4 linked regions of the Homo sapiens genome follow. The protein of the gene in region 1 interacts with the protein of each later gene in a pairwise test. Each region holds a gene or a part of one and is shown in the gene's direction. Other genes may lie near its edges.

Region 1 (7,021 bases):
TAGGAAAGCAGTAAGAGTCAAGAATGGAGCCCTCAGATCTCCAAAGTGGAGTATGCTAGGTGATCCATTTGGATGCCAGATGAATGTACTAGAAATTCCATTTATATCCTTTTTGTTTTTGTTTTTGAGACAGGGTCTCACTCCGTCACCCAGGCTGGAGTGCACTGGTGTGATCACAGCTCACTGCAGCCTCGACCACCCAGGCTCAAGCGATTCTCCCACCTCAGCCTCCCTAGTAGCTGGGACCACAGGCGCATGCCACCATACCCAGCTAATTTTTTGTTTGTTTTTGTAGAGATGAGGTCTCAAACTCTTGGGCTCAAGTGATCCTCCTCCTCAGCCTCCCAAAGTGCTGGGATTACACGCAGGTGTGAGCCATCGCACCCAGCCTCTATCTTTTTTTTTTTTTTTTTCCTTTTTTGAGACAGAGTCTTGCTCTGTCACCCAGGCTGAAGTGCAGTGGCACGATCTCGGCTCACTACAACCTCCGCCTCTGGGGTTCAAGTGATTCTTGTCCCTCAGCCTCCCAAGTAGCTGGGACTACTCTTGTTGCCCAGGCTGGAATGCAATGGCATGATCTTGGCTCACTGCAAGCTCCACCTTCCGGGTTCAAGTGATTCTCCTGCCTCAGTCTCCCGAGTAGCTAGGATTACAGGCATGCACCACCATGCCTGGCTAATTTTGTATTTTTTTAGTGGAGACGGGGTTTCTCCATGTTGGTCAGGCTGGTCTTGAACTCCCAACCTCAGGTGCTCTGCCTCTTGAGTAGCTGGGACTACAGGCATGCACCACCACATCTGTCTAACTTGTGTATTTTTTTGGTAGAGACGGGGTTTCACTATGTTCACCAGACTGGTCTCAAACTCCTGACCTCAAATGATCTGCCTGCCTCAGCCTCTGAAAGTGCTGGGATTACAGGCATGAGCCACCACACCTGGCCTCATTTTTGTATTTTTAGTAGAGATGAGGTTTCGCCATTATGGCCAGGCTGGTCTTGAACTCTTGGCCTCAAGTGATCCGCCTGTCTTGGCCTCCCAAAGTGCTGGGATTACAGGTGTGAGCCATCATGCCTGGCCTATTTTTATCTTATCTCTTTTTGAATAATAATGGTCAGGTATTTTGTAGACTGTCCCTCAATTTGGGTTTATCTGATGTTTTCTCATTATTAGATTGGGAAAAATACTACACAGGTATCTCATCCTTTTAAAAACTTTTATTTTTGTATGCTTTGTAATATAGCACAAATCAAATACATAATCTATTACTATAGTAGAAGTATATACTTTACATGGAGAGGATGAGAGGGACAGAGAGAAGAAAGAAGGGCTACTTTCCAATTTTGGGCTGACAGGGTTGAAATCTAAAAAGTTTGGCTACCACTGCTTTAAAGGACAGGAAGGGAAAGAAACAGAGGAGAAGCAGCCAAAGGGATTGCAAGGAAAACCAGGAGCCGTGGCTGCATGAAGACCAAAGCAGGGGCTTTTCAAGGAGGGAGTTGCCAGTATCAAATGCTTTGGGAAGTTAGATAAAATTAAGGGATGGAAATTGCCTTTTGAGTTTGGGGAGTCGTTTCAGTGGCATGGTGGGCTTGGAAGGTGTGGGCGGCCAGGTGGGGTGGCTCACGCCTGTAATCCCAGCACTTTGGGAGGCCGAGGCAGGCGGATTGTTTGAGGTCAGGAGTTCGAGACCAGTCTGGCCAACGTAGTGAAACCCTGTCTCTACCAAAAAAATACACAAGTTAGCCAGACGTGGTGGTGCGTGCCTGTAGTCCCAGCCACTCAGGAGTCTGAGGCAGGAGAATCTCTTGAACCTGGGAGGTGGAGGTTGCGGTGAGCTGAGATCCTTACCACTGCACTCCAACCTGGGTGACAGCAAGACCCTGTCTCAAAAAATAAAAATAAAAAAAATTTTTAAAATTTTGTGGGTTAAGTAGTAAACTTAAAATGAAGTATAGAAGCAAACGGTGGTTGACTGCTCTTCCTGGATTCTTCCTCTGAAGGGGAGCAAGGCTGGTAGCTGGTGGAGACTGGTAGGACCAAAGGAGGTTTTTTATGGTTTTAGTTATAGAATGGGAGTGCCTTGAGCGTATTTTTATGCTGAAGTGAAAGGGCCAGTGGAGAGGGAAAAAACTGGTGGTTTGAAGTGTGACTTCATTCATTCATTAACTCAACAAGTACTTATTGAGCACCAATGTGTCGGGCTCTGTTCTCAGCCCTGGGGATAGTGTGTGAACAAGACGCACTGAAATCCCCGCCTTCATGGAGCTTGTATTCTATAGGGCCATCTTTTGATGGCTATTACCATATAGCCACCTCACTCCTGATGTGTTGTCTGTCCTAGAAGAGTGGCTTCCTTAACAAACAGTGAAGGAACAAAGGTCCCTAAAAAGACTGAACACAGGATTGTCTTAGTCTGGAGGAGGGACATCCCTGCCCTCATGTCTGGAGGGAGAGGAGTTACAGATAGGGGCTTATGCAGATAAATTTGTGGTGGGGAGAGGAAGCAGGTAGCTCAAGAAATTCCTCTGTTTTCTCTGTGAAGCTGGAGATGAGGTTATCTGGTGAGACTGAGTTGGGGAGTGATAGCATAGGAAGTTGAAAGTTAGGAAGCCCATTTCAGTTCAGTACAAGGAAAAACTTTTCAAAGGACTAGAATGTTAGGAAAATGGAGCCAGTTGCTGGCAAATGTAGTTCGTATATTGAGGTGGTGTCCCCATCACTGGTAGTATTGAAATAGAGGAGGGGTGACTTTCTGCCAGGTATCCCTGAGACATGCTTATACTTATAATAAGCAGAAGTTTGGACAAATGACCTTCCTCTGTATAGGAGTCCCTGACTCTAAGGTTTTCTAAAGCTCTGGGCTTCTGAAGGACTGTTGTACAGGCATGGAAGTTGAAACTACGAAGCTGGGGCAAAGTTATTTGGTATAGGTTTGCCAGAATTGAATGAGTAGGGCCGTGTCTCAAAACAAGGGTATCTCCAAATCAAAATATGGTTTTTTAAATGTGTATGGTACCTGGGGCTGGGCGCGGTGGCTCACGCCTGTAATCCCAGCACATAGGGAGGCTGAGGCGGGCCGATCACTTGAGGTCAGGAGTTTGAGACCAGCTTGGCTAACATGGTGTCACCCTGTCTCTACTGAAAATACAAAATTTAGCCAGGCATGGTGGCACACACCTGTAATCCCAGCTACTTGGGAGGCTGAGGCAGGAGAATTGCTTGAACCTGGCAGGCAGAGGTTGCAGTGAGCCAATATTGTGCCACTGCACTCCAGCCTAGGCGACAGTGTGAGACTCTGTCTCAAAACAAACAAACAAAATATGTGTATGGTTCTTGGGAAGCATAGGTCTCTTGGTTCCCCATTTTTCTTAGTGTTTGCAGTACTACTACTTTAGTGAACCAAGATATCTATCAGTTACAAAAGACCATTCCATTCTGCTAATTTTTTTGGTCTGTCTTCAGCTAGAGCAGTTTGGACATTCCTGTTCTGACAGCTGTGCCGGATTGAAATTTGTAACTCCCGTGTATCAGCACCAACCTGAAGCCTTTTATTTACTGTCAATACTGCAACACCAAAACATTTACTGTTGCTTCCAACTTTATTTCCATCCCCTGTTAGTGGTACTTTCCTTAGGTCAAGAGAATAACACTGATTCTTTACTAAAGTCTAATTTTCCCATACTAGGTGTGGCTAACATTTGTTCTAGACTTGGAGCCCATTTTTTTAATAGGAACCCCAAATTAAAAAATCAGCCAGGCATGATGGCATGCATCTGTAGTCCTAGCTACTCAGAAGGCTGAGGCAGGAGGCTGAGGCAGGAAGATCACTTGGGCCCTGGAGTTTGAGGCTGCAGTGAGTCATGCAGACTCAAACTCAGCTTGGGTGACATAGCCAGACCCTGTCTCTAAAAAAATAACTAGGTACAAATTTCATCCTTAAATGTAAACAACCAATCGTGTTCACTTTGGTTGCCCAAAGACTACAAAAAGCTCAGGGGCTCTGCCCTTAGGCCTGGCAGTGAAGCAGTTCCCAGGCAGAGTTTCTGTTTTCAAGGGTGCTCAGGATTTGGAGAAAAGTTCCTTTCAGTAACTGAAATTAGCTACTTGTCCCTGTGTAAGCTAGACATCACGAGGTTAATAGATAATGGATGAAGAGGCCAAATACCTCATCCTTAGCTGTGGAGAGCTTATAAAATAGTCCCTTTATTCTCATCTTTATCTTTTAATCCTGAATCCTTAGACTAGTTGACTTTATCATTACAGAATACCTTTTCTTACCCTCTTGACATGTCAACTACAAATACTGTTTCCTGGACTTTGTTTCTAAAGTCTGAAGTGTTTTTATGTTTCTACTTGTGACATGTATGCCCCCCCCCCCCCCCAACATTTGACAGTCCTTATTTCACTAGGGTTGCCTATGGGACATAAGGAAAGATGTTACCTATCCTAAGACATAGTAACCTGGTAAAATCTTATAGTGAAATAATAGGAACTTTATGAATTTGCATTGTGTAGAAAGGATTGATGGTAGAAATAATTTAGAGATTTCAAGCTTCTTCCTTTTTAGTCTGTGCCTGGGCTTTGTTTTTTGTTTTTTAAATTTTGGAGATATGCCACTGATTTCTAATTCCTGCCAAATTGCCACATGCCTCTTTAAGAGCCATCAGTAGGAAGGTGTCTATATCATTAGGAAACCCTGTTTTGTAGTTGTACCTTTGTTGATCTCTTTTTGAGACTTTTGTTTGTTTCTTGTTCTTATCAGGCAGACCCTGAACCAGAATAGGTTCAGAGAGGCTCTGATAGTTGTACTTTTGTTCCAGCAGAATGTGTGGACTTAAATTCTTAGAGTGATACTTTGAAAAAGAATTTGTTATTGTTTAGGACTCAGCATTTTGACCAGTCATAATTTAATACGCTAAGTCAGTGGTGAATGGGGAAACATGTATTATATTTAATAATTGTCAAGGTAAATGATTTATGATGTTGATAATTCATTTACTGATCTGTTTTCTTTTCAGGTGTTTTGGGGAACGAGTTTAGTATATTAAAATCACCAGGGTCTGTTGTTTTCCGAAATGGAAATTGGCCTATACCAGGAGAGCGGATCCCAGACGTGGCTGCATTGTCCATGGGCTTCTCTGTGAAAGAAGTATGTATATATTTTTTAAATGTTTGGAGCTGCTTTTAAGAACATTTTTACTGATTTCTGCTAATAGCCCAAAAAAGCATCAAACGAACGTAGGTACGTTTGGTACAGATTACAAAAGTTAAAAAGCTCATCTGGACCAGGCACAGTGGCTCACGCCTGTAATCCCGGCACTCTGGGAGGCCGAGGTGGGAGGCTCAGTTGAACCCAGGAATTTGAGACCAACCTGGGCAACATAGTGAGACTCCCATCTCAAAAATAAATGAATTAATTTTTTAAAAACCCATTTGTAGTTGGGAAGATTTTGGATGAGTGCTTCAAGCTTGGCTTCTGAAACAAATCATTAGAAATCATTAACTATATAATTATTTATTCATAGTAGTGAAATTCTTTGTATATTAGAGAATGCATCTGTCCTACTCTTAATAGGATATCTACTTTCTGGTTTTTTTTTTTTAGTATAGGCGATAGATTCACTATGAATGATAAAATATATATGCATTATGCCTGAGGTTAGGAAAATAATGTGGTCAGTAGCCATGGGGCAGCCAAGGACCTTGGTTTCCTAGAATGGAGCTATGACCTGTTGTAGTAATTGGCTGCTTATGTGATTGTAGGGGGCGGGAGGGTCTAGATCCAGTCAATGTGAGAGATCGAAAGGTAAGGGCTCAGAAGAAAGGAAATACAGCTTGCTCGGTGCTATCATCTCCTTCTCTTTGTAAGTCTGGTGCTTTTGATGTGGTCTCTAGATATATATCATCAGTCACTGAAAGGAACTTTTCTCCAAATCCTGAGCACCCTTGAAAACAGAAACTCTACCTGGGAACTGCTTCACTGCCAGGCCTAAGGGCAGAGCCCCTGAGCTTTTTGTAGTCTTTGGGCAACCAAAGTGAACAGGATTGGTTGTTTACATTTAAGGATGAAATTTGTACCTAGTTATTTTTTTAGAGACAGGGTCTGGCTGTGTCACCCAAGCTGAGTTTGAGTCTGCATGACTCACTGCAGCCTCAAACTCCAGGGCCCAAGTGATCTTCCTGCCTCAGCCTCCTGCCTCAGCCTTCTGAGTAGCTAGGACTACAGATGCATGCCATCACGCCTAGCTGATTTTTTAATTTTTTGTAGAGACAGGGTCTCGCTATGTTGTCCAGGCTGGTAGGTCTTTAACTCCTGGCCTCAAGCAATCCTTTCTGCGTCAGCCTCCCAAAGTGCTGGGATTACAGGCACGAGCCACCACACCCAGCCTGTACCTAATTCTTTTTTTGTTTTGTTTTGTTTTGTTTTTTGCTACAGGGTCCCGCTCTATCACCCAAGCTAGAGTGCAGTGGCCTGATCTCGGCTTACTGCAACCTCCACCTCCCAGGTTCAAGAGATTCTCCCACCTCAGCCTCCCCGGTAGCTGGGACCACAGGCGTACAACACCATGCCCAGATCATTTTTATATTTTTTGTAGAGACAGGATTTTGCCATGTTGCTCAGGCTGGTCTTGAACTCCTGGACACAAGGAATCTACCTGCTTCAGCCTCCCAAAGTGCTGAGATGACAGGCGTGAACACCACACCTGACCATCTAGTTCTTTACAACCTTAAACTTGACTACTGATGGCTATTAAAATAACTGAGAAATAATTATTAGTAAACTAATGATAGTTACTTTTAGTAGGAATTGTTTTATTTATAAAGATCTTAGTCTAAAGAGGATGTTTTAATGACCATCTTGCTATGTCTCTGTGAAAGATAAAAGTGATGCTGTATATGAGGGCAAAAAATGATGTGGGGGAAGAAAATTTCCATGGCTACATGAAGAAAATATTTTGTGATCTGAAATTTGAAAGGTACCTATGTTTTGTTTACTTGCTTGCTTTTTTCCACAAAAGGTG
Region 2 (7,021 bases), on another chromosome or scaffold:
CACATTCAGTGTTAGACTTAAGCAACACAAGGGCAGTTTTTATCTCTGGTTTTCTAGCACATGTTTTTTCTGTATCTTGTGATGAGATAAGAGATAGTGATCACTTAGAGAAATAAACACTGCTTGTCTTTGAAGCAGTAACAAATGATTCATGCCTTTCTTTTTTTTTTTTTTTTTTTTTTTGAGATGGAGTCTTGCCCTGTTGCCCAGGCTGGAGTGCAGTGGCGTGATGTCAGGTCACTGCAACCTCCGCCTCCCAGGTTCAAGTGATTCTCCTGCCTCAGGGATTACAGGCGCATGCTATCACACCCGGCTAATTTTCGTATTTTTAGTAGAAATGGGGTTTCTCCATGTCGGCCAGGCCGGTCTCGAACTCCTGACCTCAGGTGATCTGCCCACCTCGGCCTCCCAAAGTTTTGGGATTACAGGCGTGAGCCACTGCACCCGGCCTTTCTTTTCTTACTATGCAAGATGATATGTTTTCAAAGGATAGAATAGAATGACCTTTTTTCATCTTTGATGTTATTTTCATGAGGACTGTAAACATTGGTGTTTTCCCCCTTATTGAAAGCCCGCTCTGTTCTTGGCCTGCTGGGAGCAGGAGGAATGTTGGGCGGTTTTTCTCTCCCTCTTCCTCTCATGCCTCTCCGCTGACTCAGACTGACCGGTAATCCAGAGGTCTGGGTCTGACTCAGACTGACCGGTAATCCAGAGGTCTGGGGATAGATGGAGTTGACGGTGTGTGTTTTGGAGCTCAGTTCTTTTAGTTCACACAAGACCTAGTTATCAGAAAGAAGCTTTAAAAATGAAAATCCCCTGTCACTTGTAGCCACTGTTGGGCTGAGGAGAGGAAGCACACGCACCCTTCCTCATGGATGACTTTTCAGGAAGGACTCGAGTGGGTGTGTTGGGCATACCCTGTCTCCTTGCCCAGATTGTATTTAGAAAGACCTCAGAGGCGCAGAAAGTTGAAGGAATAGTGCAGTGAAGTCCTGGATGCCCTTCCATTCTCAACATTGGCTCTGTTTGCCTTAGCACTCTCTAGATCTCCTTATTTTTTAAATTTATAATACAATTGTTTGTGTTTTATTTATTTTTAAAAATTGATTCAGCTGGGCACAGTTGCTCACACCTGTAATCCCAGCACTTTTGGAGGCCGAGGTGGGAGGATTGCCGGAGGCCAGGAGTTCAAGACCAGCCTGGGTGACATAGCAAGACTCTATCTCTACTTATATTTTAAAAATGTATTGTAAATTGACAATCATAATTGTGTTGCCTGTTGTTATTTTGACCAAACCATTTGAGAGTAAGTTACTATTGTGACCCTTTATCTCTACATTCTTCAGAGTCTATCTCCTAAGAAGGAGGCTGTTCTTCTTCATAACTGAAATTTATATAATTATCAAAATCTGGACATGTAACATTGAATACCTGATTTAACTTACAATCCATATACAAATTTAAACAGTTACCCCAACAATGTCCTGTTCCCCTACCCCCTGAAATCCAGGATCACAAGTTGAATTTAATTGTTGTGTCTCTTTAATCTCCATTGATCTAGAATAGTTCCTCTTTGTCTTGAGAAAGCCAATTTGTGGAAGGACCCTCAGTGGGTCTTACCGGGTGTTTCCTTTGATTCGATTCAGGTGCGCTTTGGCAGGAGCACGGCACAGTGATTCTGTCCTCTCAGTATCCTCCGTGGGAGGCACATGCTGTCACTTTGTCCCATCATCATGTTGTTCTGGGTTATGGTGGAGATAACTGATCTCTTGGAAGTGCCACCTCCTCTCCATGAGTAATGACTCACCTGTGGGGAGGTGCTTTGAGACTATCTTGTCAGTCCACAGGCAGACTCAGTGGTCTTGGCATCTTCGGGGGCAGACCCAGTGGACTTGGCATCTTCGGGGGCAGACCCAGTGGACTTGGCATCTTTGGGGAATTCTTGCCTGCATTAGTGTTGGCTGTGATGATTGTAAAATGGAGGCTTCTCAACTCATCATTTCTTCAGCATTTGCCACTCGGCCTTCTCTTTATTTCATGTCAGTGTGGCTTCTAGGGGTTAGAGTTCATGACTGTTATCATTTATTTTGATGTTCACTTGGCCCAGATATGGCCAGAAAGACTCCCTCCAGGCTGGCTTCTGGGTCCTCTTGCCATTCGTTCATGTCTGTGCCACTCTCGGGCACTGCACACTGTCTGTGGCTCATGTGTTCACTTCCTGCCCCACTTCTGGAATCAGCCATTTCTCCGAGGAGCCCTGCTTCCGGCTGATGGGGAACAGCACGTAGAAACCACGACCTGGGCACCAAGAATACACCTCTGCTGCTGGGTGTTGTCCTTTCTAGGCCCTTTCAGCAGACAGAGCTAGGAGTTGAATTTTAAAACCAAGAGTTCATCATGGTGCCCGTCACATTGCAGCACCACGGGGGTCTTTGCCCACCATCAGCCCACAGTTGCTCCTTCCTCCCACAGTGCCAAGTAGCTGGGGACTTGGGAACGTCAGCAGTGCTGTTCTTATCAAAGTTTCCTGTAACCCTGTCTCTCAGCAGTGATTTAAGAAATTAAGGCTTTTCACTGGTTGTCAATTTTCTTTGCCTCCCTGGGGCTGAATACAGCCTGTTGTTTCAAGTATCTAAAGTGGCTTAAAAGAAACTTCTCCATAAACCGAATAGCACATCGCTAGAGACTCTGAGAAAAGTACTACTTAGTGATAATTGCTATAGAATATGTGACAAAATGTGCTTTCGTTTCAAATAAAGTGGAGATTTATTCAGAAAAGTGGAGTGTAGAACTACACTGTTAAATAGAAGGATCACAACAATGTACTCGATGTATTATTTGTCCCTTTTGGTAAACGTAATGAGTGAAATTGTAAGTTAAAGCTGAAGCTCTTTTCCCTCCATTTCATCATGAAGCTCTTCACATGGACAGCAAAGCTGCAGGATTTTGTGGTGCGCGCTTGTATACCCGCCACTTCAGCCGTGTCGCCATGCTTTGCTGTGTTGCATTTGTCCAGGTGTCCCCCACAGCCTTCCACGCCTGCGTGAATGTCAGTCACAGACGTGAGCATCAGTCACAGACATGAGCGTGCTCTCCTGCCTTCACCATGCCTGTCAGGGACCAGAGTTCAGCAGTTGTCTTGTTTTTTCTTTTGAGATACATTTTTCTTACGGGAATATGTGGGAAACTTAATTGTGCTGTTCAGTGAGTTACACCCACATAGCCGCGACCGAGACAGACCCTCGATCTGGAAGATTCAGCCTCCCCCACGCATGGCCGTCCCCCAGGCAGCCATTGCCCCCCTCCCTCCATACGTGAGTCTCACCTTTTCTAGAGCGGCATAGCCACGAAATTACACGGTAGGGTCTTTTGTGGAAGGCGTCTTTCGCTCACATGATGTGCTTCAGACTCATCCATGTTTTACATAGAGCAGTTCGTTTCTTTTTATCGCTGAACAGTGTTAGTGATTGCACAGCCGCCTAGCTCACCTCCAAAGGAGAGACACGTAAAACAGCCTTTTGTGTTTGGAATGCCTTTTCCAGAAGATCCCTTGATACGAGAGCCGCATGTTTGCTATTCTTGATGCCCTGCTGGTATCGTGTGAGTGTTCCAGTCTGTCTGTCCACCCTCCTACAGAGTGACATCTGGGCTGTGTTCAGCTTGGGGCTGTCACGGAGCCTTCCTGCGCAGGTCCATCTGTGGATGCAGGCGCCTTCTCTCCTGGATGAAATACTAAGAGTGGAATTGCTGAGTCATAGGTGGTCGCATGTTTGTTTAGGAGCAGCTGCCAGACCTTCTTTGCAAATGGTTGAGCCATTTACACTTCCACCAACACTGTGTGAGAGTTCTGTTGCTGTACATCCTTGCCAACATTTGGTATTGTCATTCTCTTTAATTTTAGCCATTCTGGTAGGTGTGTAGTCATCTGTCATTTGGAGTTTTAATTTGCCTTTGTCTGGTGACTGGTGATGAGCACAGAGCTCTTTTCAGCGTGCACTGTGTTTGTGTGTGTGTGTGTGTGTGTGTGTTATGGGATTGGAGTAGGCAGTCTGTGTGTGTGTGTGTGTGTGTGTTACGGGATTGGGGGAGTACGCAGTCTGTGTGTGTGTATGTGTGTTATGGGATTGGGGGAGTAGGCAGTCTGTGTGTGTGTTACGGGATTGGGGGAGTAGGCAGTCTGCGTGTGTGTTACGGGATTGGGGGAGTAGGCAGTCTGCGTGTGTGTGTGTGTGTGTGTTATGGGATTGGGGGAGTAGGCACTCTGTGTGTGTGTGTGTGTGTGTGTTATGGGATTGGAGTAGGCAGTCTCTGTGTGTGTGTGTGTGTGTGTGTGTTATGGGATTGGAGTAGGCAGTCTGTGTGTGTGTGTGTGTGTTATGGGATTGGGGGAGTAGGCAGTCTGTGTGTGTGTTACGGGATTGGGGGAGTAGGCAGTCTGCGTGTGTGTGTGTGTGTTATGGGATTGGGGGAGTAGGCTGTGTGTGTGTGTGTGTGTGTGTTACAGGATTGGGGGAGTAGGCAGTCAGCTTGGTTGCATGTTGGAAGTTACTCATGCAGTCGCTCTTGCTTCTGACTGGCTTGAGTTCCAGAGCTGTTGGCTGCGTGGAGTTTGACCCCTTCCTTAGTAGCAGCGCTTTGAGTAGTGGGCAGAGTCTCAGGGTGTTCTGTGTGGTTGGAGCAGGCTGGTGTGCCGGGCCTCTCCCTTGGTACAGGTTGGTACAGGGAGCATAGCCCAGTCTGGAGTGAGGCTACCAGGGGACTAAGACCTTGCTTTGTCACATGAGATCTGTAGGTGAGTCCAAAGACACAAGTGTGCTGCGTGGCAGTGTCGCTGGCGTTGCTGTGGCCTCGGATGGAGGCTCTTGGGTTCCCAAAAGAGTGCCTGCTGATGAGCAGAAGGTCCCAGCAGGTTTGTGGTTAGTGATTACACAGCCACAGGGCACACTTCCTCTCACAGAGAGATCTGAAACACAGCCTTCTGTGTTGGCACTCTTCTCTCCCAGAAGAGCCCTTGTGGATAGGAGCCGCATGTTTATACTCTTTGTGCCCTGCCTGCAGCGGGGTTCCTGAACACTCGTTCCACATGTCTTGAAGAAGGCTTGTTATCAGCAGGGGCTCAGGAAGAGGACCTTCATTTGGTAATTCCACATCAGAGGTTCTTGGTGCCACACCCCTCACTGGTGCCCACCCTGCCCTGCTGGACTAATATTTACACTGCCTGATTCTCAGTGACTGACTTGTCTCTTGCCTCTTTCCTGCAGCTTGTTCTCAGAACACAAACAAAACCTGTGAAGAGTGCCTGAAGAACGTCTCCGTAAGTAGCACGTGGACTAGAGACCAGAGTGCCGTCCAGACCGTCCAAAGGCACACGGGCTTTCTCTAGGTCCAGGGATTCGCTGGGATGTGTGGAGGGCTCTGTTGTTTGGGATTTGGGGGGATGTTTTTTGGAATCGTTATCAAATGTTATTTTAGCCATTTCAGGTATATTAAACCTTCTCATGAAAACTGCAGTTACTGTCTGAGCATGGTCAGTATCCATGATTTCACTCCTATGCAGATGGGGCCAGCACTGCGTGGCCAGTCTTCCTAACGAGGCCCATAGCGAGAAATTTGGCTGTCCGCAAAGCTACACCCTCAGGTTGTGAGCCCGTGTTTTCCCAGGCTGTCGGGCTGCAGCAGAGACTGCTTTCTCAGCTGCTCACACAGGATTGGAAGGGGCACAGCAAGGAGAGAGAGGCACCAGCCCTCTGGGCCGGTGGGCCAGGCTGTCCATAGCACTCTCTGGTCGTGACCTGGGGCTCAGGTTTGGATTTTAACTACCTGTGTGACCTTCAACAAGAGGGTAGCGGTCTGGAGCAAAGTTCCCTAAGCCTCCACGGCATGAGGTGGGGCCCGAGACTCCCCGGGGTGCCTTCCCGATGGAGACTGATGCAGATGCCCACCTGGAAGAAGGAGCACCCGTGGTGGGGAAGCAGCATCACAGTGCAGGTCTTGTTAAAGACGTGTGAACAGGGCTGGGTGCAGTGGCTCACGCCTGTAATCCCAGCACTTTGGGAGGCCGAGGCAGGTGGATCACGAGGTCAGCAGTTGGAGACCAGCCTGACCAACATGGTGAAACCCCGTCTCTACTAAAAATACAAAACAATTAGCTAGGCGTGGTGGCGGGTGCCTGTAATCCCAGCTACTTGAGAGGCTGAGGCAGGAGAATTTCTTGAAACCGGAAGTCGGAGGTTGCAGTGAGCCAAGATTGTGCCACTGCACTCTAGCCTGGGCAACAAGAGCAAAAAACTGTCTTTAAAAAACAAAAACAAAAACAAAAACGTGTGAACAGGGTCCTTTGGTTTTCTCTGCGTGGTGGCCTGCGCCTGGGCCAGCCTGGCTGGCACCTCTTGGGCTTGCCTTGCCACGCAGCTCTTGGTTCGGCAGCACCCAAGTCTCCTCGCAGCGCTATGAAATCAGCACGGGAAACCTGAGGGAAGGCCCACGGCAGCGGGAAGTGGTTAGGCAGAAAACAGCATCCTGTGGGGCCTTTTTCTTAGGATTCCTGATCTCGCCCACCCCTTGCCCCTTCCAGTCAGGAGTTTACCAGGTTTTGAGAACTGCAGGGCCAGAGGCTTCCTTTCCCCGGCAATGAGGTTTCATGATATGAGGAGGCCGGGAAAGATGTATTCGATGATTTCTATTCTAAGGCATGAGCCATGTTCTTAAAAACTCTTCTTCCTCCACGAGACCGTAGCGTAGGTTTGAGGAGGCCGGGAAAGATGTATTCGATGATTTCTATTCTAAGGCATGAGCCATGTTCTTAAAAACTCTTCTTCCTCCACGAGACCGTAGCGTAGGTTCGAGACACACCCTGTCAGTTTGTGGGACTTAAGTGGATACTTGCATTTGCTGATTAAAAATTGAAAGACGCTGTTTCTGTGGTTTCAGATCTTGACATTGGTGATGTTGAACCTGCTCTAATGCGCCTGGTCCTGGTGCATTTTCTAGATGGTGCTTCTTTTTAGTCTCTGGATTTTTC
Region 3 (7,655 bases), on another chromosome or scaffold:
ACTGTCTCACATTAATTAATTAATTGATTAAATGCTAGAAGAAAATATGGTCAAAATCTTTTATAACTCTTGGAGTGAGGAAGGCAATCTCGGCTCACTACAACTTCCACCTCCCGGGTTCAAATGATTCTCCTGCCTCAGCCTCCTGAGTAGCTGGGATTACAGGCACCCACCACCATGCCCGGCTAATTTTTGTATTTTTAGTAGAGACGAGGTTTCGCCATGTTGGCCAAGCTTGTCTTAAACTCCTGACCTCAGGTGATCCACCCACCTCAGCCTCCCAAATTGCTGGGATTACAGGCATGAGCCACCATGCCCCGCCTAATTTTAAAAATGTTTATAAAGACAGAGTCTTACCACGTTGTCCAGACCTGTCTCAAACTCCTGGGCTCAAGTCATTGTCTTGTCTCAGCCTCCCAAAGTTCTGGGACTACAGGTGTGCACCACCACACCTGGCTAATTTTGTTTATTTTTTATAGAGTGAGGGTCTCCCTGTGTTGTCCAGGGTGTCTCAAACTCCTGGGCTCAAGTGGTCCTCCTGCCTCAGCCTCCCAAAGTGCTGGGATTATAGGCATAAGCCACTGCACCTGGCCCCAGTGTGTGTCTTCTGAGGCTAAGTCATAAAGAGATTGCGGCTTCTATTTTGCTTCCTCTTAGATCACTCATTCTGGGGGAAACCAACAATAAATAACAGGAACACACCAGGAGATCAGAGAAAGCTGAGATACAGGCCTAATGCCCAGTCCTCTGTATTCATTTCTAATTGCTGCTGTAACAAGTTACTGCACATTTAATGATGTAAAACAACACAAATTTATCTTACAGTTCTGTAGCTTAGAAGTCTGACAGAGTCTCACTGGGCTGAAATCAAGATGTTGATAGTTCCTTCCCGGTGACTCTAGAGTGAGAATCCAGTTCTTTACCCTTTCTTGCCTTTAGAGGCCACCCGTATTTATTAGCTCACAATCCCCTTCCTCCATCTTCAAACCAGAAACATTGCAGCTCTCTGTGTCTTTTTTCTTTACTCACATCTCCCTCTGACTTTCTTCTGCCATCCTCCTTCATTTTTTAAGGACCCCTGTGGGCCAGGCATGGTGGCTTATGCCTGTAATCCCAGCACTTTGAGAGGCGGAGGCAGGCGGGTCACCTGAGGTCAGGAGTTCCAGACCAGCCTGGCCAACATGGCAAAACCCCATCTCCACTGAAAATACAAAAATTGGGCCAGGCACGGCGGCTCACACCCGTAATCCCCATACTTTGAGAGGCTGAGGCAGGTGGATCACTTGAGGTCAGGAGTTCAAGACCAGCCTGGCCAACATGGTGAAATCCCGTCTCTACTAAAAAAAAAAAAAATTACAATAATTAGTCAGGCGTGGTGGCCAGCACCTATAATCCCAGCTACTTGGGAGGTTGAGGCACAAGAATTGCTTGAACCCGAGAGGGGGAGGTTGCAGTGAGCTGAGATTGCACCACCGTACTCCAGCCTGGATGACAGAGCAAGACTCTGTCTCAAAATAAAAATTAAGATAAATAATAAAAAATAAATAAAAATCAGCAAATTAGGCCAGGTGTGGTGGTGGCTCATGCCTGTACTCCCAGCACTTTGAGGTGGGAAGGTTGCTTGAAACCAGAAGTTTAGACCAGCCTGGGAAACAAAGTGAGACCCCATCTCTACAAAAATAAAAATAAATTAGCCAGGTGTGGTGGGACGTACTTGTACTCCTAGCTACTAGGGAGGCTGAGGTGCAAGAATCGCTTGAACCTGGGAGACGGAGGTTGCAGTGAGTTATGACAGTGCCACTACACTCCAGCCTGGGTGTCAAGGGTCTTTGAAAAAATAAACAAAATAGGCTGGGCGTGGTGGCTTACACTTGTAATCCCAGCACTTTGGGAGGCTGAGGCAGGCAGATCACAAAGTCAGGAGTTCGAGACCAGCCTGGCCAACACAGTGAAACCCCGTCTCTACTAAAAATACAAAAATTAGCCAGGCATGGTTGCACGCGCCTGTAGTCCCAACTGCTCGGGAGGCTGAGGCAGGAGAATGGCTTGAACCTGGGGGGGGGCGGAAGTTATAATGAGCCAAGATTGTGCCACTGCACTCCAGCCTAGGCAACAGAGCGAGACTCCGTCTCAAAAATAAAAATAAAAATAAATCAATAGAGCCTGGTATGATGGCTCACGCCTATAATCCCAGCACTTTGGGAGGCCCAGGTGGGTGGATCATCTGAGGTCAGGAGTTTGAGACCAGCCTGACCAACATGGAGAAACCCCATCTCTACTAAAAATACAAAAAATTAGCCAGGCGTGGTGGCACATGCCTATAATCCCAGCTACTCAGGAGCCTGAGGCAGGAGAATCGCTTTAACCGGGGAGGTGGAGGTTGCGGTGAGTCGAGATAGCACCATTGCATTCTAGCCTGGGCAACAAGAGCAAAACTCCATCTCAAAAATAAATAAATAAATAGATAGATAGGCTGGGCACGGTGGCTCACGCCTGTAATCCCAGCACTTTGGGAGGCCGAGGTGGGCGGATCACCTGAGGTCAGGAGTTCAAGACCAGCCTGGCCAATATAGCGAAACCCTGTCTCTACTAAAAATTTAAAAAATTAGCCAGGCATGATGGCGGGTGCCTGTAATCCCAGCTACTCGGGAGGCTGAGGCAGGAGAATCTCTCGAACCTGGCAGGCGGAGGTTGCAGTGAGCCGAGATCACACCATTGCACTCCAGTTGGGCAACAAGAGCGAAACTCCACCTCAAAAACAAAATAAAATAAAATAAAATCAGGAGATTGGTCAGCTTAATTCCATCTGCAACCTTAATTCCCTTTTGGCCATTTAACCTATCATATTCACAAGTTCCAGGGATTCATGCAGGGACATCTTTGGTGACCATTATTCTGTCTACCACACTCTCTAGAAGAGAGTAGATGTGAGAAACAGCATCTGGAGAGGGAGGAGCCAGCAGGAGAGGGAAATATCACAGACGCCAGAGGAAGAGAGTTCCCAGAAGGGTAGGTGCAACAGTAAGGGATCCCTCTGGGAAGTCAAGCAAGAGAAGACCTGAAAAACAACCATTGGCCGGGTGCGGTGGCTCACGCCTATAATCCTAGCATTTTGGGAGGCCGAGGTGGGTGGATCACTTGAGGTCAGGAGTTTAAGACAAGCCTGGCCAACATGGTGAAACCCTGTCTCTACTAAAAATACAAAAATTAGCCAGACATGGTGGCAGGCACCTGTAGTCCAAACTACTTGGGAGGCTGAGGCACGAGAACCACTTGAACCCTGGAGGCGGAAGTTGCAGTGAGCCGAGATGGCACCGCTGCACTCCAGCCTGGGCGACAGAGTGAGACTCCGTCTCAAAATAAGTAAATAAATAAATAAATAACCATTGGGTCTAGCGTCTTGGTGACACCAGCCACTAGGTGTCAGGGCAATGCTGGAGGCAGCAGCTAGTTTATGGCGTGGGCAGCAAGGAAGAAGTGAGGAAGTAGAGACTGGGAGTGTAGAATCTTTCCAAAAACTTGAATGTGGAGGGGTAGATGGGATAATGCCGGGAGAGGAGGCTGGTGAAGGACCTCTTAGTGAAGGGAGATTTGTTGCTGTTTCTGAGATGGGAAAGAGAAACAAGTTGCAGTGTAGATGGGGAGGATGGAGAGGTTGAAGGTGTAGGAGAGATGGGTCACCATCAGATGGGACGTCTGTGAAGGAGAGACCTCATCTGGCCCACAGCTTGGAAAGGAGAGACTGACTGTTGAGTTGATGCAAGCTCAGGTGTTGCCAGGCGGGCGCCATGATAGTAGAGAGGTTAGGATACTGTCAAGGGTGTGTGTGGCCAAAGGAGTGGTTCTGTGAATGTATGGGAGAAAGGGAGACCGACCACCAGGAAGCACTGGTGAGGCAGGACCCGGGAGGATGGGAGGCTGCAGCCCGAATGGTGCCTGAAATAGTTTCAGGGGAAATGCTTGGTTCCCGAATCGGATCGCCGTATTCGCTGGATCCCCTGATCCGCTGGTCTCTAGGTCCCGGATGCTGCAATTCTTACAACAGGACTTGGCATAGGGTAAGCGCAAATGCTGTTAACCACACTAACACACTTTTTTTTTTCTTTTTTTTTTTTGAGACAGAGTCTCACTCTGTCGGCCTGGCTGGAGTGCAGTGGCACGATCTCGGCTCACTGCAACCTCCGGCTCCCCGGCTCAAGCAATTCTCCTGCCTCAGCCTCCCGAGTAGCTGGGATTACAGGCATGTGCCACCACGCCCGGCTAATTTTTGTATTTTTAGTTGAGATGGGGTTTCACCATGTTGGCGAGGCTGGTCTTGAACTCCTGACCTCAGGTAATCCGCCAGCCTCGGCCTCCCAAAGTGCTGGGATTACAAGCGTGAGCCACCGTGCCCGGCCAACAGTTTTTAAATCTGTGGAGACTTCATTTCCCTTGATGCCTTGCAGCCGCGCCGACTACAACTCCCATCATGCCTGGCAGCCGCTGGGGCCGCGATTCCGCACGTCCCTTACCCGCTTCACTAGTCCCGGCATTCTTCGCTGTTTTCCTAACTCGCCCGCTTGACTAGCGCCCTGGAACAGCCATTTGGGTCGTGGAGTGCGAGCACGGCCGGCCAATCGCCGAGTCAGAGGGCCAGGAGGGGCGCGGCCATTCGCCGCCCGGCCCCTGCTCCGTGGCTGGTTTTCTCCGCGGGCGCCTCGGGCGGAACCTGGAGATAATGGGCAGCACCTGGGGGAGCCCTGGCTGGGTGCGGCTCGCTCTTTGCCTGACGGGCTTAGTGCTCTCGCTCTACGCGCTGCACGTGAAGGCGGCGCGCGCCCGGGACCGGGATTACCGCGCGCTCTGCGACGTGGGCACCGCCATCAGCTGTTCGCGCGTCTTCTCCTCCAGGTGTGCACGGGAGTGGGAGGCGTGGGGCCTCGGAGCAGGGCGGCCAGGATGCCAGATGATTATTCTGGAGTCTGGGATCGGTGTGCCCGGGGAACGGACACGGGGCTGGACTGCTCGCGGGGTCGTTGCACAGGGGCTGAGCTACCCAGCGATACTGGTGTTCGAAATAAGAGTGCGAGGCAAGGGACCAGACAGTGCTGGGGACTGGGATTATTCCGGGGACTCGCACGTGAATTGGATGCCAAGGAATAACGGTGACCAGGAAAGGCGGGGAGGCAGGATGGCGGTAGAGATTGACGATGGTCTCAAGGACGGCGCGCAGGTGAAGGGGGGTGTTGGCGATGGCTGCGCCCAGGAACAAGGTGGCCCGGTCTGGCTGTGCGTGATGGCCAGGCGTTAGCATAATGACGGAATACAGAGGAGGCGAGTGAGTGGCCAGGGAGCTGGAGATTCTGGGGTCCAGGGCAAAGATAATCTGCCCCCGACTCCCAGTCTCTGATGCAAAACCGAGTGAACCGTTATACCAGCCTTGCCATTTTAAGAATTACTTAAGGGCCGGGCGCGGTGGCCCACTCCTGTAATCCCAGCACTTTGGGAGGCCGAGGCGGATGGATCACTTGAAGTCAGGAGTTGACCAGCCTGGCCAACATGGTGAAAGCCTGTCTCTACCAAAAATAGAAAAATTAATCGGGCGCTATGGCGGGTGCCTTAATCCCAGCTACTCGGGGGGGCTAAGGCAGGAGAATCGCTTGAACCCGGGAGGCGGAGGTTTCAGTGAGCCGAGATCGCGCCACTGCACTCCAGCCTGGGCCAGAGTGAGACTCCGTCTCAAAAAAAAAAAAAAAAAAAAAAAAAAAGAGACTTACTTAAGGTCTAAGATGAAAAGCAGGGCCTACGGAGTAGCCACGTCCGGGCCTGGTCTGGGGAGAGGGGAGGATAGGGTCAGTGACATGGAATCCTGACGTGGCCAAAGGTGCCCGGTGCCAGGAGATCATCGACCCTTGGACTAGGATGGGAGGTCGGGGAACAGAGGATAGCCCAGGTGGCTTCTTGGAAATCACCTTTCTCGGGCAGGGTCCAAGGCACTGGGTTGACAGTCCTAACCTGGTTCCACCCCACCCCACCCCTCTGCCAGGTGGGGCAGGGGTTTCGGGCTGGTGGAGCATGTGCTGGGACAGGACAGCATCCTCAATCAATCCAACAGCATATTCGGTTGCATCTTCTACACACTACAGCTATTGTTAGGTGAGTGGCTCCGCCCCCTCCCTGCCCGCCCCGCCCCGCCCCTCATCCCCCTTGGTCAGCTCAGCCCCACTCCATGCAATCTTGGTGATCCACACAGCTGACAGCCAGCTAGCTGCTCATCACGGAGCGTCCTGCGGGTGGGGATGTGGGGAGGTAACTAACAGGAGTCTTTTAATTGGTTTAAGTACTGTTAGAGGCTGAAGGGCCCTTAAAGACATCCTAGGTCCCCAGGTTTTTTGTTTGTTGTTGTTTTGAGACAGGGTCTGGCTCTGTTGCCCAAAGTGAGGTCTAGGATGCCCTTAGTGTGCACTGGCGTGATCTCAGTTCATGGCAACCTCTGCCTCCCTGCCCAAGGGATCCTCCCACCTTAGCCTCCCAAGCAGCTGGAATCACAGGCGTGCACCACTATGCCCAGCTAATTTTTGTTTTTGTTTTTTTTTGGTAGAGATGGTGTCTCGCCATGTTGCCCAGGCTGGTCTCAAGCAATCTGTCTGCCTCAGCCTCCCAAAGTGCTGGGGGGATTACAGGCGTGAGCTACCATGCCCCACCAACACCCCAGTTTTGTGGAAAAGATGCCGAAATTCCTTTTTAAGGAGAAGCTGAGCATGAGCTATCTTTTGTCTCATTTAGTGCTCAGCAGGAAAATTTGTATCTAGTCCCATAAGAACAGAGAGAGGAACCAAGGGAGTGGAAGACGATGGCGCCCCAGGCCTTGCTGATGCCATATGCCGGAGATGAGACTATCCATTACCACCCTTCCCAGCAGGCTCCCACGCTCCCTTTGAGTCACCCTTCCCAGCTCCAGAGAAGGCATCACTGAGGGAGGCCCAGCACCATGGTCCTGGCTGACACATGGTTCAGACTTGGCCGATTTATTTAAGAAATTTTATTGCTCAGAACTTTCCCTCCCTGGGCAATGGCAAGAGCTTCAGAGACCAGTCCCTTGGAGGGGACCTGTTGAAGCCTTCTTTTTTTTTTTTTTTAAGAAATAATCTTGCTCTGTTGCCCAGGCTGGAGTGCAGTGGCACAATCATAGCTCACTGTAACCTGGCTCAAGCGATCCTCCTGAGTAGCTAGGACTATAGGCATGTCACTGCACCCAGCTAATTTTTTTTTTTTTTTTTTTTTTTTTTTTGCGACATAGTCTCGCTCTGTCACCAGGCTGGAGTGCAGTGGCACGATCTTGGCTCACTGCAACCTCTGCCTCCCGGGTTCAAGCAATTTTCCTGCCTCAGCCTCCTGAGTAGCTGGGACTACAGGCGCGTGTCACCACGCCCAGCTAATTTTTGTATTTTTAGTGGAGACAGGGTTTCACCATGTTGGCTAGGATGGTCTCAATCTCTTGACCTGGTGATCCATCCGCCTTGGCCTCCCAAAGTGCTAGGATTACAGGCGTGAGTCAACCTCACCGGGCATTTTTTTTTTGAGACGAAGTCTTGCTCTTGCTGCCCAAGCTGGAATGTGGTGGCATGATCTCGGCTCACTGCAACCTCCACCTCCTAGGTTCAAGCGATTCTCCA
Region 4 (7,676 bases), on another chromosome or scaffold:
TATACCAAGGTTTAGTGCTATTAAGGATACAGAGTAAGTGACTGAGATGGATTTGACTGTCAGACTCTAAAAATCTGTGTTTAGGTATGTGTATGCATGTGTGTTTATATCAGGTTGAAAAAAATGCTGGCTCTTTCCTTATTTCATCACTCAGAAGATGAATGTGGTCTTGAACTTTGGGAAGTAAATGAGTTTCTTAGGGACATGGAGCTTGGAAAGAAACCTGAACTATGCGTGCAAGAGATACCTGTCCTGGCCGGGCTCAGTGACTCATGCCTGTAATCCCAGTACTTTGGGAGGCTGAGGTGGGTGGATCACTTGAGGCGAGGAGTTTGAGATCAGCCTGGCCAACATGGTGAAACCCTGTCTCTACTAAAAATACAAACATTAGCTGGGCATGGTGGCATAAGCTTGTAATCCTAGCTGCTTGGGAAGCTGAGGCACGAGAATCACTTGAACCCGGGAGGCGGACGTTGCAAGGAGCTGAAATTGCGCCACTGCACTCCAGACTGGGTGACAGACCGAGACTCTGTCTCAAAAAAAAAATTAAAAAAAAGAAGAGACACCTGTCTTTTCTAGCAATTCCCTTTCCTTCCCTCTCCTCCTCTCCACTCTACAACCTCCCTCTCTTTTCCTGCCTCTCTCTCCCTCCTGCCTCCTCTCAAGTGAAAGATCTGTCCTGGGCCGGGCGCGGTGGCTCACGCCTGTAATCCCAGCACTTTGGGAGGCTGAGGCGGGAGGATCACAAGGTCAGGAGTTCGAGACCAGCCAGGCCAACATGGCAAAATCCCATCTCTACTAAAAATACAAAAATTAGCTGGGCGTGGTGGCAGGTGCCTGTAATCCCAGCTACTGGGGAGGCTGAGGCAGGAGAATCACTTGAACCCAGGAGGCGAGGTTGCAGTGTCGCCACTGCACTCCAGCCCTGGTGACAATATGAGACTCTGTCTCAAAAAAAAAAAAAAAAAATCTGTCCTGTCCACTGACCTGGTCTTCCTGCTAGGGACAAGGTTTTCCTGTTGAAGACAAAAGAGGGCCGGGTGGCCTGCTCTCAGGTCTGCCTCCTTGGCGAATGGGCCTTACAGCACCTTTTCCTCAGGAGCACACATCAGTTGCTCCCATTCCTATTTCTGAAGACAATCTCAATACCACATTTTCTTAGTGGAAGCTGAGGGCACCCCACGCTAGGGTCACTGGAGAAGCCTTGGGCCTAAGGGTAAGGAGCAGGACCCGGAGCTCTGGGCTGTAGAGCGAGGTGCTCCCGGACAGGCTGGCTGAGCTGCAGCCTGCATCCTCTGTGCTGCCACAAATTCAGCTGCCTATTGGGGGTGTCGGCACCAGCTCTCAGGGCAGGTGGACCTGGGATGAATGCCCTGTTTGCTTTTATGGGCAACTCACTTTTCATACCTGAGCCTCGGTCTCCTCATCCATAAAATTGGCACAATAACACTTGTGCATAATACTGGATGAGATCAGGGTACACCAAGCATTCAGCAGCTCCTGGCCCAATAAGTAGTAGCTATTGTCTTTGTTTTCAAGGGTTTTTGCTTGTTTGTTTGTTTGAGATGGAGTCTTGCTCTGTCACCCAGGCTGGAGAGCAGTGGCATGATCTCTGCTCCCTGCAACCTCCGTCTCCTGGGTTCAAGCGATTCTCCTGTCTCAGCCTCCCGAGTAGCTGGGATTACAGGTGTTAACAGTTTACCAAACAGTATGCCATCCATTCAAATCTCTGCTCTTAGGGAGCTCATCCTTTCCTCTGCTCTAAGGAGCCTGAGTGAGAGGCCCTGGTAACAGCAAGGGGAAAGAAGGAAACTGTATTCCCGAGTCCATACTCTGTCCTAGCATCACAGCAAACTCAGAGGTTTTTGGACCCCCAGATGTTAAGAGGAGGGACAGGCCCTGAGCTTCCTAAATACCCTCATATGCCCACTGTCTTCAGCTGGGCTCTCCCAGAAGCAGATCCTGAGATAAGGATTTAAGGACAAATTATTTATTTATTTTTCATTTATTTTATTTTTTGAGACGGAGTTTCACTCTTGTTGCCCAGGCTGGAGTGCAATGGCATGATCTTGGCTCACTGCAACCTCCACCTCCCAGGTTCAAGCGATTCTCCTGCCTCAGCCTCCCGAGTAGCTGGGATTACAGGCATGGACCACCACGCCCGGCTAATTTTGTATTTTTAGTAGAGATGGGGTTTCTCCATGTTGGTCAGGCTGGTCTCGAACTCCCAACTTCAGGTGATCCGCCCACCTTGGCCTCCCAAAGTGCTGAGATTACAGACGGTGAGCCACCATGCCCAGCCAAATTGTTTATGTGAGGTGTGACCCCGGAAGCACTGGTACCCTACTGTGGGAAAGTGGGACAAGTGAGGAAATGAAGCCAACACAGGGTGCATTACTGAGCAGGTAACTGCTGTGGGAAGCTGGGCTCCATCGCACAGGGGACCTCTGGGAGACTGTGGTACACACCTCTGGATGGGGTATTTATCCATCCACTCCTGTCCATCCATGGTTGACAGCTGCTCTTAGGGGTACCTACCCTGCACTGGCTGAATGCAAAAATGTTCTCCAAGTCAGAGAAAGCCCCCTGGCAGAGAAAACATGGCCTTATAAGTACTGGGGGCATTTGCTTACCATAATAGTGCTTACACAATTATAAATGACTCCAATAATTATTTAATGTTTCCCTCCTGTATTAGAATATAATCTCTCTGAAGATAGGGACAGCATCACCAATTGTATCCCCAGGACCTAGAATGGTGTCTGGCACATGGTAGGTTTTCGATAGATACTTGCTGAATCAATGTAATCTGGAGGCTGACAAATTCATGATAAAGACCCCAGTTCTGTCTGAATAGCTTCTCTATCTCTTCCTTTCTCCTCTCTCCACCCTAAACTTGATATAGCAGTGCCTAAAACTCACTTCCAGTATCTTTTTTAAAATTTGCCTTCTTCTAGAGTATAAAAGCCCAGTATTTAACCTTGCCCATGGTTGCCTGGAATAGAGGGTGCTTTTCCCACCCTCCTTTGCAGCTAGCAGTGCCTATGTGACTAAGTTCTGAGCAAGAGGTGTGGAATTGATGGCTGCCACTTTCAAGATGTGTCTTTATGGGTGGAGGTGCACCCATCTCCTTCCCATTCCTCCTTCCTGCTGGTTGGAATTTGGATATCGTGGCTGGAGCAGCCACCTTGGATCATGAGGTGGAAATCTTGGACCAAAGGATGGTGGAAGCTAGAAGACCCAGGCACCCTGATGATCAGGGAGCAGCCACTCCAACCTTGGGCTGAACCTCTGGCCTTGCTTTACATGAGAGAGCCCTTGGTTATGCCATTGTTGTTTGGGGTGGGATTTTCTGTCACTCCCAGGTGAACAACCTAATCCTAAGTGATACCTAGAAGGTCCCTGCTAGACTGACCTCTTGGGAGGGGAGGGAATAAACGAGTCTCAGGTGGTGGAACCAGAGCTTGCTGGAGAGGAGAGTCTCTCCTGGTGAATGGAAGCCAGGGGCCCCTCCCACTGGCTGTCTCCTTCCCTGGGCTCAGGCAGGTCCAGCCTTCCTCAGGACTTTGAGAAGTTCAGTTCTCTCCCCAGGAGTAGCTACTTTCACAAACTTCCTGTCCCTTTAGTCGACATGCCCCACGGCAGGTCCGAGGCTGGGCTCTGCCACAACTCATCTTTCCTAAGAGTGGCATCAAGGTTCTTTGGTGGGGGATCCTCTTTTCCCATCCCCACTTCTCAAGAGCATTAGGGAAGATACAGTCAGTGCCCTCTTAGCATTCTCTTTCCACTTGTTGGGTGTAAGAAGGGAACCTGAGGGCCCTGCAGTGTTTAGGGGTGGGAGTGGAAACAGACAGGAAAGATCCAGAGTCCCCAAGAAGCGAAGCAGGGAGAGAGATAAAGAAGGCAGGAACAACCATGGACACACATTATCACACATACACAGGTTACAAGAGCAGGAGGCTGGAGCTGCAAGAGGTGGCAGGGAAGCTTCCAGAAAGGCAGACCCCAGCCTCATCCCTCCCTGCCCTGCAATGCTGAAGTTTCCAGGTAGAGGGGAACCTCTAGACCCTTGCGACTGTCAGAGTTCTGTGGATCCATTTGTCAGTCTCCCCACCCCCAACCTTGACTATCCTGGGCCTGCCTTCAGGACAGAACATGGGAATGAGAAGAGGACCTGGGAAGGGGTAATCCTGGGAAAAAAAAGTTCTTATTAGTCACCCCTGGCTCTGAGGATACTTTCCAGGAGTGGCCTGCCAAGCCGTGTGACCTTGGACAAGTCCCGTCCATTCCTCAGGCCTCAGTTTCCTTTGAGGGACCCTGAATGGGCGGGGGTTGCTGTAGCTTTCCTCAGCTGGGAGACCCGGGAGGAGGTCCGGGGTGCCAGGGTGGGAGGAGGGCCTGGCTTGTCGCTGAAAGCCGGCCAGGCGCACTGTCGGCGCTCAGAGCTGGTGGCCGCCTCCTGCGCTTCCTGATTCCCAGCCGCGCTCGCTCGGAGAGCAGTGCCCGCTATCTCCTGGCCCGGGACCGGCAGAGGGGTGCGGCGGGGCGGGCCCAGGGGTCTCTGGCGGCCGGAAGAACCGGGACCCTGCCAGGCCCCTCCCGCGGGCAGGGCGGCCCCTCGCCGGCTCCTCCCCCACCGCCCGCCACCAGCCCGGGATCAGTCTCCGCACGCGGTTCCGCAGGTGGCAGCGATGGCCCAGTCCTGAACTCCCCGCCATGGCCGGCGCCCCCGGCCCGCTGCGCCTTGCGCTGCTGCTGCTCGGGATGGTGGGCAGGGCCGGCCCCCGCCCCCAGGTGAGATCCAGGGACCCCGACGACACCGGGGGAGGCGGGTGGCTCTGCGGGCTGCAGGCGCAGTGTCCTGGTGGAGGGCCCCGGGACTTGAACGAAACTCCGAGACCGCTGGCGGGGGCATCCGAAAGCCTCGGGGGGAGTAGGGACTGGAGACTTGGTGCCCCTGGGCTGGAAGGCCCAGGTGAGGGCTTGGACTACAGAGGATTCCCCCCAACCCCAGCGAGGCGCCCTCTTCCTCGCCACCCGGGTCCCTCTGCCCGGGCACCCGCTGCCCCGCGGCCGCCCTGCGCTGACTTCTGCTCCGCTTCTCCTTTGTCCCCAGCACTTTCCCAACTCCTTCTAAACCGTGTCAGCGGCCCTGGCACAGCCCGGCATCCTCCCGGACTCCCTCTGCCCCACAGTCTGACCCAGACCCCTCTCCCGCAGTGCCTCCCCAGACAATCCACCTGCTCAAAGACCCTGAGAAGACCCTGGGAGGAGCTGAGAGGGCCAGGGTGCGGAGACCCGGCTCCTCTCCCTTTCTCATCAGCCCCCAGCACAGCCTTTGATTCATGGCTCCTGGGGCCCTGCGGTGGCAGCTTGTCCTTCCCAGTGACCTCCCAGATGGAACCTACCCCCCGTCCCCTACCAGCCTCTGTAGCAAACAGGCAGAAGGCTCAGTGCCCCCCTGGAAGCAGCCAGGCGCCCCCACTCACCCACTCTGCTGACCTCCCATTCTCATCCTGCACTGACAGCAGGCCCCAAGAGAAGGCATACTGGGACACGCAAGAACACCTGGGCTCCTTGGTGCCACCAGAGAGCAGGCCACAGGTGGACCACCGCAGCCCCTCTCTCTTGCCCTTGTTGCTTTTCCTGCCCTGGGATCCTGGGCTAGGGACAGTGGTCAGCTGCTTTTGAAGAGGGGAGCTGTCCAAAGATGCTGGGACTTGCTTGAGCAGAGAGGAGACATAGACTTGGGTGGCCTGTCCTGGGTCAGGAAACAGGTTCTTCCTATCACCTCCCACTGCTACCCCCAGACCTAAAGAACTGAGATCTGTGGGGAGTGGACCTGAACGAACCTTGAAGTTTGTCCCAGAACCATTGCCTTGGTGAGGGCAGACTCCACCTCGGCGGAAACCCCAGATGTGGACAGACATACCTCTCAGCTAAGATGCCAGCACATTTTTCAGCCCCCAGATTATTTTCCAGACGCATCCTCTCCCTGCCCCTGTTCCCCAGCCCAGCTGCTGTCCTGAGCCCCAGGAGACAACCTCCCCCTTCCAAGACACCTTCCTCACAGCGCCCCCAGCCAGGCCTTGGTTTTCCTGGTGCGGCTGGGATCTTTCAGGGGCCAGGGCTGCAGACCCAAGATGTGGTTCTTGCCCATCGTTCCCTCCTCTTACGGACTGGGTTGGGATAGGGGTGGAGGCTCTGCTTCCTGGTTCCATCCTCCTCCAGGCCAGGTTTACAGGTCTGGTTTGAATGAAGGGAAGAAAGCAAAGGGAAGAGGAAAGTTTCTGTGAGCTGTCTTCCCAGAGGCCTTATTCCCAGAAGTGTCAGGCTCCTGAACCCACACTTTCCTCTGATCCGATTTTACTCCTTAGCCCCAGGCCTAAGGCAAAAGCTGGGCATCCTGGGGGCATAACAGGATTGGGGTGGTAGAGAAGGATAGGAGGGGACAGGTCCTAGCAGGGAGGGGAGCTTTGAGGGGGTGCTCTTGTCATGGGAAACTGAGCTGCCACAGAGATCTGAGTCACAGGAGGTGTTAAGGATAGATTGCAACAATTATGACACAACATCATGCGTGCTTATAAGACTAAAAAATAGTGTATTTTGCATTTTGTTTTCTGTCTATGAAGTCAAAAGGGTTAGAGTTACTCCCCTCATGTTGCTGATGGGGGAATGAAAGCTCAGAAAAAGAGGGTCCCCTGTATAAAGTAGCCCAGCAGTTCAGGAGCAGGGAAGAGAAAGGGGTGAAGGGCTGGGCTCTTGACCTAACACCTCCTACTCAGACGGGACTGAAGGGAGACCTCTGAGAGTGAGCTGCTCACTGTCAGGTCTCGTGAGGCTGGAAACAGCATCCCTGCAGGTAGGGGGATGGCTGAGTTGACTTCTGAAGAAGGTGCCCTAGGCTACTCTTTCATTGCTGCTGGGAAGGCTCATTCCCCTACCCTGGTCCTTACCTCTCCAATACCCTGGTGAGGGAGCGGGCCTACTGAGGAGACAGGCAAGCCTTTGACACTCAAAGTTAAAATCAGACACAACTGGATTCAAATATAGGGTCTGCTATTAGCTGGTGATCTGGAGTTGGACACTTGGTTATCCCCAATACATGTCCTTATCTGTAAATAAGGATCATAAGCTCTATCACATAGGGTTATGGAGGGGATTGAGACACTGGCCCCTGAAATGGCAACTTTAGTCACTTTAGTCAAATGGCAGAACTGACCCATTTGTCCTTGGGGATCCAGAAGTGTTTTCCAGGGCTGCAGGATAGTATGAGAGAGGGGCTGTTGGAGACCCTGGGTCTCTGTACTCTAGTGAATGGCAGGTGGAGTCCAGGGCTGAGCCTTGATCAGTGCGGACATTGTTCTAAGCTGGGTTTCCTCCTGGACAGGACCCAGGCTGGGGGCTGGGGCAGGAGCAACCAAGAAACCACATCCTGCCCTCGAATGCCTTGCACCAAGGCAAAACAGGCTTCCTCAGCTGCAGCCTGCCCCTAGGAAAATTCCTATGTGTGTGTGGTGGTGGTGGTGGTTGGAGGAGGGGACAGAGATACAGACAGGTAGTCTGAGACAGACCAGGGGGAGAAGGGAGTAGGCTATATGAACCCCCAGTTCCCAGGTATGTGTGAGTGACCCTGTGTGTAACAGTCTGTGTGGGAATGAGTCCCTGTGTGTGCA

What was found.
Region 2: the proteins of ATP6AP2 (region 1) and PTTG1IP interact in binary tests that used the Homo sapiens proteins (3 or more experiments, as listed by UniProt).
Region 3: the proteins of ATP6AP2 (region 1) and VKORC1 interact in a two-hybrid assay, tested with the Homo sapiens proteins (one study listed by BioGRID).
Region 4: the proteins of ATP6AP2 (region 1) and GLP1R interact in a protein complementation assay, tested with the Homo sapiens proteins (one study listed by BioGRID).

Annotation. Positions count from the first base shown.
Region 1 is NC_000023.11:40,583,969-40,590,989, forward strand, and holds part of ATP6AP2 (renin receptor precursor), read left to right. Parts: intron 1-5,017; coding exon 5,018-5,148; intron 5,149-7,021. UniProt on the Homo sapiens protein: Multifunctional protein which functions as a renin, prorenin cellular receptor and is involved in the assembly of the lysosomal proton-transporting V-type ATPase (V-ATPase) and the acidification of the endo-lysosomal system.
Region 2 is NC_000021.9:44,863,688-44,870,708, reverse strand, and holds part of PTTG1IP (pituitary tumor-transforming gene 1 protein-interacting protein isoform 1 precursor), read left to right. Parts: intron 1-5,261; coding exon 5,262-5,314; intron 5,315-5,320; exon of another isoform or gene 5,321-6,741; intron 6,742-6,839; exon of another isoform or gene 6,840-6,916; intron 6,917-7,021. UniProt on the Homo sapiens protein: May facilitate PTTG1 nuclear translocation.
Region 3 is NC_000016.10:31,091,792-31,099,446, reverse strand, and holds the start of VKORC1 (vitamin K epoxide reductase complex subunit 1), read left to right. Parts: upstream 1-4,649; 5' UTR 4,650-4,717; coding exon 4,718-4,890; intron 4,891-6,025; coding exon 6,026-6,135; intron 6,136-6,580; coding exon of another isoform or gene 6,581-6,664; intron 6,665-7,655. Other genes in the region: zinc finger protein ENSP00000375192-like, read left to right, coding at 4,069-4,563.
Region 4 is NC_000006.12:39,044,125-39,051,800, forward strand, and holds the start of GLP1R (glucagon-like peptide 1 receptor precursor), read left to right. Parts: upstream 1-4,656; 5' UTR 4,657-4,716; coding exon 4,717-4,794; intron 4,795-7,676.